Linked DNA regions of Homo sapiens: regions 2 and 3 are each linked to region 1. The links come from fine-mapping of genetic effects on gene expression. A gene starts in region 1. Each other region holds a variant in brackets. All regions are shown on one strand. Distances are between the middles of the regions. Region 1 holds the start of ODAD1 (outer dynein arm docking complex subunit 1). Region 2 has its middle 21 kb from the start of ZNF114-AS1. Region 3 overlaps TMEM143 (transmembrane protein 143).

Region 1 (5,876 bases):
TGCCGGGCCCCACCCCTTCCCATATCCCCACCTCAAGTGCTAAGAGATCACTTATTAAATTAAAAGGATTTCCAAGAGTCAGGGACGTCTCTCCCAGCCTGGGGGTGTCCTTCCCAAACTGCTACATTCCCAAGTAAATTAAGAAGTCCCAGCCCTGAATAACGGACTGGAAACTTACCGAGAGCCGCGAAAAAAGTCAGAGCTGGAGTCGGAGTCTTGTCCCTCGCTCGGGCCTCCGTGCCCCGCCCTTCTCCTCCCTCCTTTCACCCTCCCGAGGCCCCCGCCTCTCTCACCGCCTTCCTCCCTCCCTTGCTCTCCCCTCCAATCCAGAACCCTTTCTCTCTCGCTCGCTCTCCTTCTGCGTCTCTTCTCTCCCTCCTGCCCTCACTGTCTGGGCCTCCTTCTCTCTTGCTCCCGTTTCTCTTTCTCTCCTCCTCTCAATATATACTGACCCTTTTATAAACCCACCCTCACCGCACCCAGCTGAGGTCGGCTGCCAGTGGGAGGGCCCAGGCACTCCGGTTCCTCTTTCTTTGGGCCCCCACCCAATCCCTCCAGACAGACATCATCTGGGGCTCCCTCCCAGGGTTGAGATGAGAAACTCTTGGAATGGGGTTCTTGGGGGGGGCAAGCGTCAGGGGTGGGAGGGCCCGATTCTCAGGACCCTTGAGTTTTGAGGTCTTGCCCTGGGGCCGGATGTCTGCTTTCCCTGATGGAGCTTGGAGCTGGATAGGAGTCTGGGAAAAGAGGCCAGATTTCTGTGGCATGGACTTGAGATTGGGCTGGTGAAGTTGGCCCCGTGGTGGGGGGTCAGAGGATGGGAGATGAAATTTGTGAAACTCGGCAGGGCGTTGTGGCTCACGCCTGTAATCCCAGCACTTTGGGAGGCCGAGACGGGCAGATCATCTGAGGTCAGGAGTTCGAGACCAGCCTGGCCAACATGGTGGAAACCCGTCTCTATCAAAAATACAAAAATTAGCCGGGCGTGGTGGCGGGCGACTGTAATCCCAGCTACTTGGGAGGCTGAGCCATGAGAATCGCTTGAACGCGAGAGGTGGAGGCTGCAGTGAGTTGAGTTTGCACCACTGCCTTCCAACCTGGGGGACAAAGTGAGATTCTGTCGCAAAAAAAAAACAAAACAAAACAAAAAACAAACAAACAAAAAAAAAAACCTTGTGAAACTCTGGAAGCGGGGAGGAAGCGGAAGCTAAGAATCCCAGCGCCATCATTTCCTGGTTCAGTGACCTTGAGCCAATTATTTCACCCACCTGGGCTCCAGTATCTTAGTCTATGTTGAGAGTATAATAATGCTGACAAAATACTAATACTGATAATAATAATTCTGATACTTATGCTGAATGAATAAGGTAATACTGGCACACTCACACACCTAACCTGTTCCTTCCTTCATCAAACATTTATTGAACATGTACTCTGATCTGGGAGTTAATAATGAAAACAGACATGAGCCCTGCTGGTATTATGGAGCTTGTATTCTAGTAGAGGAAGACAGACAAGAGAAAACATCAATGATGAAGATAAATCTCAGATAAGGATAAGTGACTTGAAAAATAAATACAATAGGCTGGACGTGGTGGCTCATGCCTGTAATCTCAGCACTTTGGGAGGCCAAGGCTGGAGGATCACCTGAGGTCGAGAGTTCAAGACCAGCCTGGCCAACATGGTGAAACCCTGTCTCTACTAAAAATACAAAAATTAGCCAGGCATGGTAGTGGGCGCCTGTAACCCAGCTACTCAGGAGGCTGAGACAGGAGAATTGCTTGAACCCGGGAGGCGGAGGTTGCAGTAAGCTGAAATCACGCTACTGCACTCCATCCTGGGTGACAGAGCAAGACTCCATCTTAAAGAAAAAAAAAAATAAAAGAAGAAAAGAAAAATAAATACAATAATAAATCAAACAGAGTGATGGAGATAATGACAGAGTGCAGGGAAGACTACTTGAAACAGGAAAATCAGGGAAGGCCTCTTGGAGGAGGTAACATTTGAGCTGAAGACAGGAGTCATTTGAACGCTGGGGTTGGGGAGTGGTGGGGGGGCGTCGGGGGGAGAGGAAGTGCAAAAGCTCTTAAAGCTTTTGAGAACAAGCTCAGGTTGTTTAGGGAGCAGACAGAAGGGCCAGTGTGGCTGGAGCACAGGGAGACAGAGGGAGTGGTGAGAAGGGAAATCAAAGGGTGCCCTTGAAGACTAGGGGAGGGGCTTGGATTTCATTCTAAGTGCAGTGGAAAGCCATTAGGTTTTAACAGAGTGTAGTACCAAAGATTTTTATTTTTTTTTTGAGATGGAGTCTTGCTCTGTCATCCAGGCTGGAGTGCAGTGGCATGATCTCAGCTCACTGCAACCTCCACCTCCCGGTTCAAGCGATTCTCCTGCCTCAGCCTCCTGAGTAGCTGGGATTACAGGTGCCCGCCACCACGCCCAGCCAATTTTTGTATTTTTAGTAGAGACGGGGGTTTCTCCATGTTGGCCAGGCTGGCCTCGAACTCCTGACCTCCAGTGATCTGCCTGCCTTGGCCTCCCAAAATGATGGGATTACAGGCGTAAGACACTGTGCCTGGCCCCAAAGGTTTACTGTTAACTATTATTATTAATTTTGGGGATATTAAATTAGGGTCGGGGTGATGACTACTATGTACACGAGTCTCTTGGGAGGGGACCAGGTGCCCAGAACTCTGATAAATTGAGAGCAGGGGAATTCAAATCCTGGATCCAGGGAAGGGAACTGGATGATGGGATGTCTGGGTATCTGATGGGCCAGAGCTGGGTTTGGGATAGCTGTTGGTGATTCGGGCTCCCTGAGGGGGTGAGGGATGGACAGTTCAGTGCTTGGCTGGGTACCCCAAGACCTGGAAGCTGGAATACCAGTATAGCACAGACTCTAGAGCCACACTGGTTGGACTCAAAATCCAAGCTGTTTTACTCAATGGCTGTGTAATTTTTGGCAAGTTACTAATAACTTCTCTATGCCTCAGTCTCTTCATCTGAAAAATAGAGATAATAGTAAATACATTATAGGGCAGTTCTTAGGGTAGTGCTAGTCATATCAGGCATTGGGGCTCTGAGTGGAGTCAGTACTGGGGGACCCTGATTCAGGATCTCTAGGAGTTGGGGAAGGGGCAAATTCTTGGGTCCATTGGGTCTCAAGGCTAAAGTTGGGAATCCAAAATGAGGGTCCCTGGGGGAGAATAAGTAGTCTCAAACTTAAGTGCCTGAGAGACAGAAACTGGGGTCCGCACTCAGATCCCTAAGGAAGTTGCAAAGTCTGGGTCACTGAAGGAAAAATTAGGGGCTGGGGAGACATACGTTCCTCTTGGGGAGCAGGAAAAGAGGGCTCCACTTTCTTGAGAGGACTAGGGGGAGCCAGGGGCTAGGAAGATGGAAACTTGAGCCGGGGAGGTGAAAAACACGAGTCTAGGACTCAGAATCAAGTTCCCTGAGTGGGATCGGCGCCAGGCTTGGGTACCCTGGGGATATTAGGGGGGTCCCCGCACTATGGCTATGTAGAAGGGGAAGAATCAAAGGATCTGAGGGTGGCGGCGGGATCTCCCCATCCTGGGCCTCCGAGATTATGAGCTGAGCTGAGCGTACGCAGGCCGCTTCCTCCCACAGGAAACCGCAGGCTTCGGGCACACCCAGCCTGCAGGGAGAGGCGCCCACTGCCCGCCCGCCCGGGGAGGCCCACGTGGGCAGCAGCCGCCGCCGCGGAGGGGGCGTGCCTTACAGAGCGAGTGGGTGTAACCAGAGGGGGCGTGGCCAGAAACCGGGGGGCGGTATGGAGTGCCCGAGGTCTCACCCACTTCCGCCCTCCAGCGCGCGGACGTGGTAGGCGGCCAAGCGTTTTTGGCTGCTTCCCGGGAAGCCGTTGGTCGCGCTTGCGTAGTGAACCGCTGAGGCTGTGTTGAGCGCTCCTTCTCCGCGCAACTCCCGGCTTCGACACCGCCTTCCTTCCTATGAATCCTTAATTTAACGTGGTCACAGTCAGCTTAAGACCGGCACCTCTCGGGCTCCGTCTTGTAGGACCTCGGCCTGGCTTCGAGGGCTTCCATACAGGTCACCGCAGGCTCTTTCAACTCCCGCCGCTTCCAGGCCCGCGGTACTAGTGAGACCTCAGCCTCGACCTCCCCAGGACCATTTCGACCTCCCGCAGGCCTTCAAGGCCTGAGCGCCTCCCGATTAGCCCGCCCTTCACCGCCCTTCCACCGGGCCCCTCGTAAGGCCTTCCAAACGCGACCCTCGAAGCCCGCCCCTTACGGGGAAGCCCCTCCGCTCGCTGTCTGCGAAGCCCCGTCCTGTACTGGTGTCCGTGCCCCTCCCCTCGCCGGCCCCGAAGCCCCGCCCCTCGAAGTTCTTCCCACTCACTCTCCTCACAGGTCTCAGCCCCGCCCATCACAGCTCCCTACGGCACGCCCCTCTCAGGCCTCACAGCCGTGCACCTCTCAGGGCTCCGCAGCACCGCTCCACAGGCCCTCCCGGCTCCGCCCCTTTCAGGACCTCGCCGCCCATCAGTTTTGTTTGTTTGTTTGTTTGTTTTTTGAGACGGAGTCTCGCTCTGTCGCCCAGGCTGGAGTGCAGTGGCGGGATCTCGGCTCACTGCAACCTCCGCCTCCCGGGTTCAAGCGATTCTCCTGCCCCAGCCTCCTGAGTAGCTGGGATTACAGGCACGAGCCGCCATGTCCGGCTAATTTTTTGTACTTTTAGTAGAGACGGGGTTTCACCATGTTGGCCAGGTTGGTCTCGAACTCGTGACCTCAAGTGATGCGCCCGCCTCGGCCTCCCAAAATGCTGGGATTGCAGGCGTGAGCCACCGCGCCTGGCCTTGCCCATCAGTTCTCAGTCCGTGGGAACCCTGCAGGTCTACGCCTCGCATCCTTCTCCGCCCCTCCTCCCATAGTTTCTCCCGCGGCCTCAGTCCCTCCCTGGCCGCTGTCCTCAGTCCTCATTGGTCCCTTATCTCCCCAGTAACCAGACCACAACACTGAACTTGGAGCACCAAGAACAGGTCAGGCCCGTCGGCAGGTAGGGCCCAGGACTCCCCCGACCCTGCCCAACCCCCACTACAGCAGGCCGGGGTTTCCCCCTCTCCTGCGACCAAACAGCCTGGCCTCAGATATCCTGAGAGCCCAGGAGGCCTGTCCCCTGCCAAACCCGCGCCAGAATCGGAGCCTAGACGCAAGACCCAGAGTGTGAGAGGTGGGAGGGCTGGAGAGGTGTGGGAGAGGCCTGAGAGAGGTCCCCCTCCAACCCCTCTTGGAGGAATGAGGCCAGCGTGGTTCTAGGGTCACCCCCTTTCAATTCCCAGTCCCTCGCAGTTCATTGTCCACCCTCTCTGGGCCCTGGCCCGCCTGCTGTCTGAAGGGTCTTATATGTCCATCCCTACAGGAGCCCCACCCTGTTTGGCCAGGATGCCTTTGGGACGCTTGGCAGGGAGCGCCCGCTCCGAGGAGGGAAGCGAGGCATTTCTGGAGGGAATGGGTAATTCATTCATTCTTTATATCATTCACCCATTCTTTTCCAGCCCCCAGCTTTCCCAAGTTCCAGGTCCTGTAGGGAGGGAGGGAGAGTGTCTGTCCAGGAGCGCCCTCTGGTGGGAACAGACATGCGCCCTAAGGGAGGCGGGGCGGGCACCACGGTGGGTGGGCCAAGCCTGGGCAGTGGGGCAGGCTGGAGACTTCAGGCAGCAGAAGTTTGAGTGGGGCCCAGAACTCCCTGTAGGAATTGCCAAGGGGAGAAGGAAGGAAGGGTGTTTCTACAGAGATGACAGAATGTGGCTAGAGTAGGCTTTCTCAACCTTGGTACTGTTGACTCTTGGGGTGGGATAATTCTTTGTTGTGGGGGCAGTCCTGTGTGTCGTAGGATGC
Region 2 (6,232 bases), 30 kb after region 1:
GATTCCCTGCCATTCATTCATTCATTCATTCATTCACTCACTCATTCAGCGTTCTTATTTATTTATTTATTTATTTATTTATTTATTGAGATGAAGTTTCCCTCTTGTTGCCCAGGCTGGAGTACAGTGTCACGTTCTCGGCTCACTGCAACCTCCGCCTCCTGGGTTCAAGTGATTCTCCTGCCTCAGCCTCCCGAGTAGCTGGGATTACAGGTGCCCACTACCACGCCCGGCTAATTTTTGTATTTTTAGTCGAGATGGGGTTTCACCATGTTGGCCAGGCTGGTCTTGAACTCCTGACCTCAGGTGATCTGCCCACCTCAGCCTCCCAAAATGCTGGGATTACAGGCGTGAGCCACCGCACCCAGCCTATTCATCCATTTCTCTGAGATCCACGTGTCTGGCTCTCTTGGAGCTATGTTGGTCAGGGCAGGCTGGGCTGTGCTGCAGTCACAGCTGCAGATTCTCTGTGGTCCTCAGGCAGCAGAGTTTTCTCTCCTTTGTGGGCCAGCTGAGCGCTCCGCTCCATATCACTCGTGTACCCCGGGCCCATGGCACAGCCATCACTGGAGTGCTGCCAGTCCTTTGGCACGGGAAGAAGAGAGGATGGCACAGCAGGCAGTGACTCTCGAGGCTTGGACCTGATATGACACCTGTCCTCTTAGCTCACACTCAGCCAGAGCGGGTCAGCAGGTTACGCCGAACTTCAAAGGGTCGCCGGGAAGCGCAGTCTTTTCATGTGCCTGGAAGGAGAGAAAGGAAGGATTATTTATGGACAGCCCTAACTCCAGCCACAGGGTCACAGAGAAAAAGCTGACTTTGGCCCTTTCCTGCAGCGGGGGTGGGTGTAGGAGTGAGAGGGCTTAGAACACCTTGATAACTCTTTCCTGTAGTTGAGTCATGCCAAATGCCCTGTCAAAATTTAATCCATTGGTATCAAAGCTATATAAAAACTTCTAAAAATTCAGGCTGGGCGTGGTGGCTCACGCCTGTAATCCCAGCACTTTGGGAGGCCGAGGTGGGTGGATCACTTGAGCCCAGGAGTTCAAGACCAGCCTGGTGAACATGCGAAACCCTGTCTCGACTAAAAATACAAAAATTAGCAGAGCATGGTGATGTGCACCTGTCTTCCCAACTACTCGGGAGGCTGAGGCACAAGAATTGCTTGAATCTGGGAAGCGGAGGTTGCAGTGAGCCGAGATCATGGTACTGCACTCCAGCCTGGTTAATAGAGTGAGAGTGTCTCAAAAAAAAAAAAAAGTTCAAATCCAAACAGATAATCTATCATCCACCTTCCTAATCCAGGTAGCACCCTGAGCCTCCCCTTAAAATGGCTTGATCATAGTGCATACTTTTTTGTGTGAGAATAAGATGAATTTATACACAAAGCCTTAGAACAGTGGCTGGGCGTGGTGGCTCACGCCTGTAATCCCAGCACTTTGGGAGGCCAAGGTTGGCGGATCACCTGAGGTCAGGAGTTCAAGATCAGCCTGGCCAACATGGTGAAACCCCGTCTCTACTAAAAATACAAAAATTAGTCGGGTGTGGTGGCACATGCCTATAATCTCACCTATTCCGGAGGCTGAGGCAGGAGAATCTCTTGAACCTGGGAGGCGGAGGTTGCAGGGAGCCGAGACCATGACACTGCACTCCAGCCTGGGAGACAAGAGTGAAGCTGTATCTCAGAAAATAAATAAATTAATAAATAAAATGGCTTGATAATAGTACATACTTGTTTGTGTGAGAATAAAATGAACTGATACACAGAAAGCCTCAGAACAGTACCTGGCAAGTAGTAAATGCTCAGAACTACATGTGACTATTAGCAGGACAGCGATAAAGATGGAAAGGAGTGTAGTGTTTTCTTTCTATTTATTTATTTATTTATTTATTTTTGAGACGGAGTCTCGCTCTGTCGCCCAGGCTGGAGTGCAGTGGCACAATCTCAGCTCACTGCAATCTCCGCCTCCTGGGTTCAAGCAGTTCTCCTGCCTCAGCCTCCCAAGTAGCTGGGATTACAGGCACCTGCCACCATGCCTGGCTAATTTTTTTTTTTTGTATTTGAGATGGGGGTTTCACCGTGTTGGCCAGGCTGGTCTCGAACCCCTGACCTCAAGTGTGCTCCTACCTCGACCTCCCAAAGTGCTGGGAATACAGGCGTGAGCCACTGAGTCTGGCCTGTGTTCAGCAATATTTGAGCCATTTTTCCTTACAGAAAGAGAAATACTTATTTTTGTGTTTTAAATAAAACTGGTGTAGGAAAGTTAAAAAAAAAAAAAAAGAACTCTATTTCTCCCCTTACAGCTGCACAGGAGGGGACATCCACATATCTTTTCTCATTAATTTGATAAATATTTATTGAGCATGTACTATGTGCCATATATTGTACTAGGTTCTGGGGATGGAAGAGTAAAGGAGAAATTTGAAAATGGCATTTCAGGAGGGAGGTGGAAAGGCAGCTCCTCTGAGGCGTGGCTCCTGGCAGTGGAACTGCTATTCTTCCTCCCTGGGGGCCCAGGAAGTCTCATCTTGGTGTGGAGCTGAGTCGTGACCACCAGCCCTATCTCCCATTTCGGAGCGATTTCCTCCTCTTTCCTTCCAAAGATAGCAGAGTAAGCACAGCAGACCGAGCCTTCTGATTTGCTGCCCCTGCAAAGCGGCCTCATAGACCACCACAGTGCGATGGACTCAGGCTAACCACAGCTCTCTGTCACCTCAAGGGTCCTAGTCCTACAATGAGCAGGTTCACTTCCTCTACCTTCCCCTGGACTGGGGCTGGGCTCGCCACTTTTAGATGGTCAACCCTGCAGCACCCAGCGCAGAATACATCGAAGGCCACTTTAGAGACACCTGAGAATTCAACCTAGATTTTTGATTTTTTATTTTTTTGAGACAGGGTCTTGCTCTGTTGCCCAGGCTGGAGTGCAGTGGTGCAATCTTGGCTCACTCCAGCCTCCACCTCCCAGGTTCAAGTGATTCTCATGCCTCAGCCTCCTGAGCAGCTGGGACTACAG[A/G]TGTGTGCCACCACGCCCGGCTAATTTTTGTATTTTTTGTAGAGATGGAGGTTTCACCATGTTGGCCAGGCTGGTCTCGAACTCCTGGCCTCCAGTGATCCTCCCGCCTTGGCCTCCCAAAGTGAAAAAGACATTTTAAAGTTTGACCTCTGGAATGCCTTATGCTACAGCCTAAGAGAACAGCAGGTGAGTGCAGCTCAATCTTATCAGCCAAAGTGGAGGAAGGATGAATTAAATTGTACTCAATAGCAGTGAAATTACGGGTATTTAATCATTTTCCTCCTCCAGGAGTGAGGCAGAAACAGGCACTGCCACATCCAGGCTGTGTGGTCTTGGGCCAGTGTCTTCAGCATCCTGAGCTGTTACTCATCCTGACATCAGAGCTGGCAGCGAATCCTGGAGGCAGCTTTGTGTGGTGGGGAAGGCTCACTGGGAGGTAGCGTGGGTGTAACCGGTTCCTCATCATAATCTCTGTCAAGTGAAAAAACATGGGGATAATCTAGAACAGTGGAAAACCCTATCCCAGACCCTTAGAGAGTCAGGAAACCATTTTAAGGTGACCTGACCAGCATTTAAAAATAGGAATAGGCCGGGCCTGGTGGCTCATGCCTGTAATCACAGCACCTTGGGGGGCTGAGGCAGGCGGATCACCTGAGGACAGGAGTTCGAGACCAGCCTGGCCAACATGGTGAAACCCCGTCTTTACTAAAAATGCAAAAATTAGCTGGGCATGATGGCGGGAGCCTGTAATCCCAGCTACTCAGGAGGCTGAGGGAGGCTGAGGCAGGAGGATTGCTTGAACCTGGGGGACAGAGGTTGCAGTGAGCCGAGATCATGCCTGGGTGATAGAGTGACACTCTGTCTCAAAAAAAAAAAAGGAATAGAGTGGAATATAAAGCATCGTGTAATACAGGGCCGTGTAATACAGGGTGGTATTTTTAAAACTAAAATTTTCTTTTTTTTGAGACGGAGTCTCGCCCTGTCACCCAGGCTGGAGTGCAGTGGCGCGATCTCGGCTCACTGTAACCTCTGCCTCCCGGGTTAAAGTAGTTCTTTGCCTCAGCCTCCCTAGTAGCTGGGATTACAGGTGCCCGCCACCATACCTAGCAAATTTTTTTTTTTTTTTTTTTTTAAGTAGAGATGGGGTTTCACCATCTTGGCCAGACTGGTCTGGGACTCCTGACCTGGTGATCCACCCACCTCGGCCTCCCAAAGTGCTGGGATTACAGGCATGAGCCACTGCAGCCGGCCTAAATTTTGTTTTTAATTGTACATATTTATAGGATGCGGCGTGATGTTTTGATACATATATAAATTGTGCAGTGATCAAATCAAGGTTATTAGCAAATCCATCATCCCAGATGCTTGCCATTTCTTTGCGGTGAAACATGCAAAATGTTCTAGCTATTTTGAAGTATACAATCCATTGTTGTTGGCTATAGAGGGTGGTATTCTTTTGTAAAAGTATGCTGATGCGGCCAGGCACGGTGGCTCATGCCTGCAATCCCAGCACTTTGGGAGGCCGAGGCGGGCAGATCACTTGAGGCCAGGAATTCGAGACCAGCCTGGCTAACATTGTAAAACCCCATCTCTACTAAAAATAAAAAATTAGCCAGGCGCGGTGACGGGCGCCTGTAATCTCAGCTACTCAGGAGGCTGAGGCAGGAGAATCGCTTGAACCCTGGAAGTGGAGTTTGCAGTGAGCCGAGATCGTGCCACTGCATTCCAACCTGGGCAACAGAGCAAGACCTTGTCTCAAAAAAAAAAAAAAAAAAATGCTGACGCAAAATGATTTCTTACTGTGCGTCAGAATTTTGGAAGCCACTGGTAGACAGTCCTTAGTTTCACACAATGATTTTCAGACAACTGCCCATTCGCCAATTCCAACCACCTCGGCCCACTGCCCAAATCCAACGTTTCTGGTCTCCGGGCGGCGCTGCCTTAGCAGGATCCGCCGCCAGGTGGCGCGCTCCCCCCGCCCGGAGTGGGTTTTGTTCCATCCCGGACTTAGATCTTCCAAGACGGCGATTTCCTTCTGGTCGGGTCTCTTCCCGAGGATCCGCTTTACTCGTACTAGAAACTCTGACCTCGAATGCAGTTCCAGAAGCAGAACCCTGTAGGGGGTTTCAGGCGGCCAAGAAGGGAAGTGGTTCTCCTAAGACCGTCCCGGCTTCAGTCCACGGCGCTCACTAAATGCCTCCCACGCCAGACGAGGTCCCCCGTCCCCGGAGCTCGCGTCCCAGAGGTGAGGACACACACGAACCCTCCTGCCCGAATTCGCGACCCCGTCAGTGCAGGGAGGCTCTGGCCTGGGGCTGAAGAGCCGAGTCTCTGGTGCCTGACAGCACGGGGTCGAGCCCCTCCCGGCCACCTGCTGGCTGTGTGATCTTGGGCATCGTGCTTGGCCTCGCTGTGCCTCAGTTCCCCCCACTGTAAAATGGTAGTGATAACAGCAGCCACTTCATAGCGTTGCAGGCGTTGCATGAGTTAATAGGTGCAAAGCGCTCAGAAGGGGGCCTGGCGTATGTTTGCCAAAACGATTGTTGAAAATTCTCAGTTTACATCTGTGAGAATTGAGGACCAGTTGGGGGTAGAGGGTGGGGAATCCCCAAAGTCGGCTAAGTTCAGCCTCAGCGACTGGAGGCGGGAGGGGTGTTCCCTCAGCTACAGATGTTTCCCCCCTCCCGCCCCGGCCCCCTCCACCCCCGGTTGAATCCAGGGATTCTGATTTCAGCCATGGTCCTTTTCCTCCGCACAGCGCTCCCTGGGGGTGGGAGTGGACCCAGGCCCCTTGGCAAGGTCTGGGACTGTCCTGGCATAGCAGCCTCCCCTCCTCCTCTTCATTCCTTCCAGGATGGGGAGGGCCATGAGTCACCCAGATTCTAGGATAAAGCAGCAGATTGCTGGGAAACGCAGGCAGCAGGGGTCCGGGAGAAAGGGCCAAGCTTGAGCCCCCTCAGCCACAGTGGGGGTCCCTGACCTGCAGGTCTTCCCCAAACACTGAAAGCTGAACTTAACAGTGCTGGGGCCATGCAGAATGCGCGCCTAGGAGGACCTCTGCTCTTACCAGTGGCGTTTCTCTTTTCTTTTCCTTTTTTTTTGGAGACGAAATCTCGCTCCGTCGCCCAGACGGGAGTGCAGTGGCGCAGTCTCAGCTCACTGCAACCGCTGCCTCCCTTGTTCAAGTGATTCTCCTGCCTCAGCCTCCCAAGTAGCTG
Region 3 (6,474 bases), 22 kb before region 1:
GCTTGTAGTCCCAGCTACTCAGAAGGCTGAGGCAGGAGAATCGCTTGAACCTGGGAGGCAGAGGTTGCAGTAAGCTGGGATCATGCCACTGCACTGCCGCCTGGGCAACAGAGCGAGACTCTGTCTCAAAAAAAAAAAAAAAAAAAAGTTTTGTAGAGACAGGATTTCACCGTGTTGCCAAGGCTGGTCTCAAACTCCTGGATTCAAGTGATCCTCCCACCTTGGCTTCCCAGAGTGTTGGGATTACAGGCGTGAGCCACTGTGCCGGCCTTTGAATCTCTTCTGCATCCCAGTCTCCTTGCTCAGTTGTTTCTGAGGCCCTGGGCTTCCCCATGACCAAACCTTCACTTAGGCCATTCCTCCCACTTGGAGAACCGGCCCTCTCTCCTTCCACTAATTCAGAATCGCACCTGGCCTGAACAAGCTGCTTCATAGGACCCCTGCTCCCAAGAGACACATGGAGGGTTAGGTTTATGATCTGGTTTTATAGAGGGGTGATTTCCTTGGAGGCTGTTGTAGAGTCTGGGACAAGTTATATGTCATCCTGAGACTCAGTCTCTCCGTGAGCAAAATAGGCTAGGCAACTGGAAACTCACGCGACATTCATTCCAAGAGTTTTTTAGGGGGGACGTTTAGGGACATAAGATGAGGCAGGCAGGTTAGATGCCAGTTTGTGAGGGAACTTGAACATCACGGAAAGCTTCTAGATTTTATTCTAAATACAGTGGGAAGCTGTTGGAGGGGTGGATTGTGGGAGCTGTTTACAGCCTCAGTAAGTTCTTCCCAATGGCCATGTGGATACTGGTTGAAAAGTAGCAAGAGTAGGCCAGGTGCGATGGCTCACGCCTGTAATCCCACCACTTTGGGAGACTGAGGTGGGGGGATCGCTTGAGGTCAGGAGTTCGAGACCAGCCTGGCCAACATGGTGAAACCTCATCTCCACTAAAAATACAAAAATTAGCCAGGCGTGGTGGTGGGCACCTGTAGTCCCAGCTACTCGGGAGGCTGAGGCAGGAGAATCACTTAAACCTAGGAGGTGGAGATTGCAGTGAGCTGAGATCATGCCATTGCACTCCACCCTGGGCAACAGAGTGAGACTCTGTCTCAAAAAAATAAATAAATAAAAAGAAAGTAGTAAGAGTAAAAGTTGGGGAACAGAAGCCCTACATAATTGTTTAAGTGAGAGATGAAGGTGGCTTCAGTGAGAAGATAGCAGCAAAGGAGATAGAGAGGAGGGTGGATTCAAGAAGATTCAGGGGTTTAGCAAGTGAACTTGCCAGAGGATTGGATATGGGTGTGATAAGAAAAGAATCTGCTGGGCACAGTGGCTCATGTCTGTAATCTCACTTTGGGAGGCCGAGGTGGTTGCATCACTTGAGGTCAGGAATTCGAGTCCAGCCTGGCCAACATAGTGAAACCCCATCTCCACTAAAAATATAAAAATTAGCTGAATGTGGTGGCATGTGTCTGTAATCCCAGCTACTCAGGAGGCTGAGGCAGGAGAACTGCTTGAACCTGGGAGGTGGAGGTTGCAGTGAGCTGAGATTGCACCACTGTACTCCAGCCTGGGTGACAGAGCGAGACTCCATCTCAAAAAAAAGAGAAAGAAAAAGAAAAAAGGGCTGAGCAAGGTGGCTCATGCCTGTAATCCCAGCACTTTGGGAGGCCGAGGTGGGTAGATCACATGTCAGGAGTTCGAGACCAGCCTGACCAACATGGTGAAACCCCTTCTCTACTAAAAATACAAAAATTAACCGGGCATGGTGGCGTGCATCTGTAATCCCAGCTACTCAGGAGGCTGAGACAGGAGAATCGCTTGAACCCAGGAGGTGGAGGTTGCAGTGAGCTGAGATTGTGCCACTGCACTCCAGCCTGGGCGACAGAGCGAGACTCCGTCTCAAAAAAACAAAAACAAAACACAAAAAAACACAGGCCGGGCACGGTGGCTTATGCCTGTAATCTTAGCACTTTGGGAGGCCGAGGCGGGCATATTGCCTGAGCTCAGGAGTTCAAGACCAGCCTGGGCAACACAGTGAAACCTCATCTCTATTAAAATACAAAAAATATATATATATATTACCCGGGCATGGTGGCGTGCGCCTGTAGTCCCAGCTACTTGGGAGGCTGAGGCAGGAGAATTGCTTGAACCCGGGAGGTGGAGGTTGCAGTGAGCGGAGAACGTGACACTGCACTCCAGCCTGGCAACAGAGCGAGACTCTATCTCAATAAAATAAATAAATAAATAAATAAATAAATGAAAGTATCTGGAGAGGGATGTCCTTAGATGTCCCTAGAATCCTTCATGCAGAGACCTATCCCATCTTTTTCTCTCTGACTCTCCTCTTAGGCCTTATATGACCCCATCAACCCTGACAGGGAGACCCTCGATCAGCCATCACTAACGGATCCCCAGCGTCTGTCTAATGAGCAGGAGGTGCTTCGGGCTCTGGAGCCCCTGCTGGCCCAGGCCAACTTCTCCCCGCTGTCTGAGGACACCCTGGCCTACGCGCTGGTGGTCCACCACCCTCAGGATGAGGTCCAGGTACTTGGCTCCCTAGGAGAACAAAACTCCCAGGAGGCCTCTAGGGTGGGGCAGAGCCTCTGAGAGGCATGGGCTGCTGGGAGTTGTAGTCCTGAGCCTGGGACTGTGGCCCATATGGCGCACTTGGTGAACTCAGAGAAGGGGCTACTTTTGGCTGGATGCAGTGGCTCAAGCCTGTAATCCCAGCAGTTTGGGGGTCCAAGGTGGGTGGATCACCTGAGGTCAAGAGTTCAAGACCAGCCTGGCCAACATGGTGAAACCCCATCTCTACTAAAAATATAAAAAATTATCCAGGCATGGTGGCAGGTGCCTGTAATCCCAGCTACTGGGGAGGCTAAGGCAGGAGAATCTCTTGAACCCGGGAGGTGGAAGTTGCAGTGAGCTGAGATCGTGCCATTGCACTCCAGCCTGGGCAACAAGAGTGAAACTCCATCTGGAAAAAAAAAGGAGGTGCTGCTGTCTCAGGTCACTTCACTGCCATCTGTTGGAAAAGTATCATATGATATGGCTCTCTTAGGGCAAGAGACTTAGCACCATCTGCCAAAATTGTAATAATAAATAATATAATACAAGGCCGGGTTCAGTGGCTCATTCCTGTAATCCCAGCATTCAGGAGGC[C/T]GAGGCAGGAGGATCGCTCGAGCCCAGGAGTTCCGGACTCATCTAGGCGACACAGGGAGACCCCGTCTCTACAGAAAATACAAAAATTAGTTGGATATGGTGGTGCGGGCCTGCAGTCCCAGCTACTCGGGAGGCTGAGGTGGGAGGATCATTTGATCCCAGGAGTTTAAGGCTGCAGTGAGCTGTCAGCCATGATCTTGCCACTGCACTCCAGCCTGGATGACAAATTGAGAACCTGTCTCAAAAAAACAAAACAAAACACACACACACAGAGAGACACATTAAAAAAGAAAAAAAAAACCAAGCCCCTAAAAGCACGCAAAATGCTAACAAAATTATAAGAAATACTAAAATCAGCTGGGTGCAGTGGCTCACACCTATAATCCCAGTGCTTTGGGAGGCTGAGGTAGGCAGATCATTTGAGGTCAGGAGTTTGAGACTAGCCTGGCCAACATGGTGAAACCCCATCTCTACTAAAAATACAAAAATTAGCCAGGCATGGTGGCGGGTGCCTGTAGTCCCAGCTACTTGGGAGGCTGAGGCACGAGAATCACTTGGACCCAGGAGGTGGAGGCTGCAGTGAGCTGAGATTGTGCCACTGCACTCCCGCCTGGGTGACAGAGTGAGACAATATCTCAAAATAGAAATAAAAATAAAAACAGAAATAAAAAATACTAAAATCTCCCCAAATTCCACATTTTAGTGATTTTAAACTGCAGTTTTTCCAAAGTCATGTTTTGTCATCTCTGAAATTGGGATGTAATTTACAGGTGGTGGTGTGACATCATTTAATTGGCAACGTATTTTGTTTTTAGTTGCTTCATAAAATAATCAGGTAGAGTCAGTGGCACCTTAGATTCTAGGAAATATGGTAAAGATGACTTCTACGTGAATGGCACTGTGTTAGATCATGAGCCCTTGTGCAGTATACGACATGGACAACCATATGTGACAGCCCTGCCTAGATGGTGAATGGGGATAAGTGGGAAACGGGGGAATTATTTAGGGGCAGGACATCTGATTCTGGTATCCTGCCCTCAACACTCCTGCCCATGTTCACCCGCCACTGCTTCCTTCATCCCCCCGGCAGGTGACAGTAAATTTGGATCAGTATGTCTACATTCACTTCTGGGCCCTGGGCCAGCGAGTCGGGCAGATGCCCCTGAAGTCCAGCGTGGGCTCCAGGCGTGGCTTCTTCACCAAGCTGCCCCCTGCGGAGAGGTGAGGCGGCCCTTGTTCCCCAGCTGCAGCAAGAGGGAGCAAGGTTAGAGTCAAGAGGGGACTGACAGGTCAGTGTCTGGTTTGGGTGTCTGGGCCCCAGGCGGGAAGTTGAGAAATGGGAGGCGTGACTCATCCAAATGCTGTCTTTTCTTCTCAAGGGAAAGTGAGTACTACACTTGATTCCCAGGGGAAGAGAAAGGATGGGGACAGTTCTCCCCATTTTCCAATAAGGAAAACTGAGGCTCGGAGAGGGAGGTCCACATTCTGAAGATGCGGCACGGCCAGGATTCCAACAAACAATCTGCACGTCCAATACCAGGGATCGATGGCGCGATTGAACCGATCCCCTGTGGTTGGACACAGCTGATCCCTGGTTTCTTCCCCATGATTACTGAGTCGCTTTTAAGATGGTTGTGCGACTGTAGAGCCAGAGTGAGCGTCCTAGGATTGGAGGGGGCTCCCCGGGCAGTGCAGTCCCGATCCTGCTCCTGCCTCTGTCTCTGTCCCTCAGGAGATACTTTAAGCGGGTGGTCCTGGCAGCCCGGACCAAACGGGGACACCTGGTACTGAAGAGTTTCAAGGACACGCCGCTGGAAGGCCTGGAGCAGCTGCTGCCGGAGCTGAAGGTGCGCACGCCCACCCTGCAGCGCGCCCTGCTCAACCTCATGCTGGTAGTCTCCGGCGTGGCGATCTTCGTCAACGTGGGCATGGTGGTGCTAACCGACCTCAAGGTGGCCACCTCCCTGCTGCTGCTGCTCTTCGCCATCTTCATGGGCCTGCGGGCCTCCAAGGTGAGCATGCGCCTGCCACGCCTCCTGCGGCCCTGCGCTGTGGGGACCAGGTCAGGCCCCCTGTAGTTGTCTCTGTTTCATGCATTGTTCCTGCGTCATGCTCTCCTCCCTCCCTCCCTCCCTTCCTTCCTTCCCATTCTTCCTCTTTTCTTTCCCTTCCCTTCCCTCCCTGTCCTTCCTTCCTTCCCATTCTTCCTCTTTTCTTTCCCTTCCCTTCCCTCCCTGTCCTTCCTTCCTTCCTCCCTCCCTTCCTCCCTTCTTTCCTTTCTCCCTCTCTCTCCTCCCCTTCCTTTTCCCCTTTCCCTTCCCTTCCTTCTTCCCCTTCCTTCCGCCTCCCCTCCTCTCCCCTCCCCTCCCCTTCCCCTCCCTCCCTCCCTTCCTTCCTGTTCCTCTTTTCCTTCCCTTCCCTCCCTCTCCCCACCTCCTTCCTCCCCCCTTCCCTTTCTCCCTTCCCTCCCTTCTTGCCCTCTCCTCCGCTCCCCTCCCTTCCCCTTCCCTTCCCTACTTCATTTACTCAACACCCCTTAGGGGGGTTTCTTAATCTCTCTGAGCCTCAGTTTTCTCATCTGGAAAATGGGGATGATAGCGAGATCTGCCTTGTAGGGTTGTGAGCATGAAATGAGTGAGTCTGTGAGAAGCACTGGGCAGTGCTCGGCTCGTGGTAGGGGCTACATAAGGGTTGACAGCCGCTCACTGAGTGCCGGCTTTAGGGGCGCTTTAGTGATGCGGTGAAGGGGGTGTGTTCTGGAAGCAGACTTCCTGGATTTGAATCTGACTCTACTCTCTTCTCGCTGTGTGATCTTGAACAAGTTGCTTAACCTCTCTGTGTCTCAGCTTCAAAATCTGCAAAGTAGGGATGATGGTGGGACCTAACTCATAGAGGTGTTGTGGGGATTAAATGAATTAACATGCACAGTGCTGAGAATAGAGCCTCCCACATGGCACAGGAGGTGCTATGTGAGAGTTAGCTATTACCAGGATGATGATTATTATCATTACTAATTGGGCTGTTTGTTCCAAGTCCCCATCCTGACTGGGTATCATTATCACTGGGGGAGCTGGCTGACAAATGCAGCCTCCTGGGCTCCAGTCCTAGTGGACTGAATTGGAAACTCTGGGACTGGGGCCCAGGGAACTATATTTTTAACAAGCTCCCTTTTGATTCTGCTACATGTGAGTGCCGGGCTGCCTTGAACAGTTGCACAGGTTGTTCACCATCCAAGGATTCGTGGCCCAGGGGCCAGGTGGAGGCTGACACCCAACTTGTGCTCCGCTTGCCAAAATGCGTGTCCTGTCTCGAGG

Evidence for each region. PIP is the estimated chance that this variant, and not a neighbour inherited with it, causes the effect.
Region 2: its variant is the best candidate, but not a certain one, in a credible set for the expression of ODAD1 in prefrontal cortex (BrainSeq, PIP 0.74).
Region 3: its variant is the best candidate, but not a certain one, in a credible set for the expression of ODAD1 in nucleus accumbens (GTEx, PIP 0.54).

What each region holds. Positions count from the first base shown.
Region 1 is chr19:48,319,913-48,325,788 of GRCh38, reverse strand. It overlaps ODAD1 (outer dynein arm docking complex subunit 1), which reads left to right and starts at 3,818. Exons shown (of 16, transcript NM_001364171.2): 1 at 3,818-4,111; 2 at 4,978-5,017; 3 at 5,398-5,490. The coding sequence starts at 5,421. It overlaps LOC124904735 (a long non-coding RNA gene), which reads right to left and starts at 4,321. Exons shown (of 2, transcript XR_007067284.1): 1 at 3,812-4,321; 2 at 2,267-2,999. EMP3 (epithelial membrane protein 3 (MAM blood group)) reads right to left here and starts at 237. Exons shown (of 5, transcript NM_001425.3): 1 at 179-237. RefSeq lists enhancers at 3,314-3,373, 3,384-3,443, 3,663-3,957, 3,964-4,203, 5,483-5,777 and 1 more and silencers at 991-1,222, 3,554-3,843, 4,314-4,433.
Region 2 is chr19:48,290,167-48,296,398 of GRCh38, reverse strand. No RefSeq gene overlaps it. Among named protein-coding and RNA genes, the nearest start is that of ZNF114-AS1, 21 kb to the right of the region's middle. RefSeq lists enhancers at 96-595, 596-1,097, 4,377-5,025, 5,143-5,192, 5,213-5,262. The variant A/G (reference allele first, on the strand shown) is at 3,015.
Region 3 is chr19:48,341,228-48,347,701 of GRCh38, reverse strand. It overlaps TMEM143 (transmembrane protein 143), which reads left to right. Exons shown (of 8, transcript NM_018273.4): 4 at 2,348-2,542; 5 at 4,251-4,381; 6 at 4,893-5,172. Among named protein-coding and RNA genes, the nearest start is that of EMP3, 19 kb to the right of the region's middle. RefSeq lists enhancers at 4,544-5,044, 5,045-5,545. The variant C/T (reference allele first, on the strand shown) is at 3,161.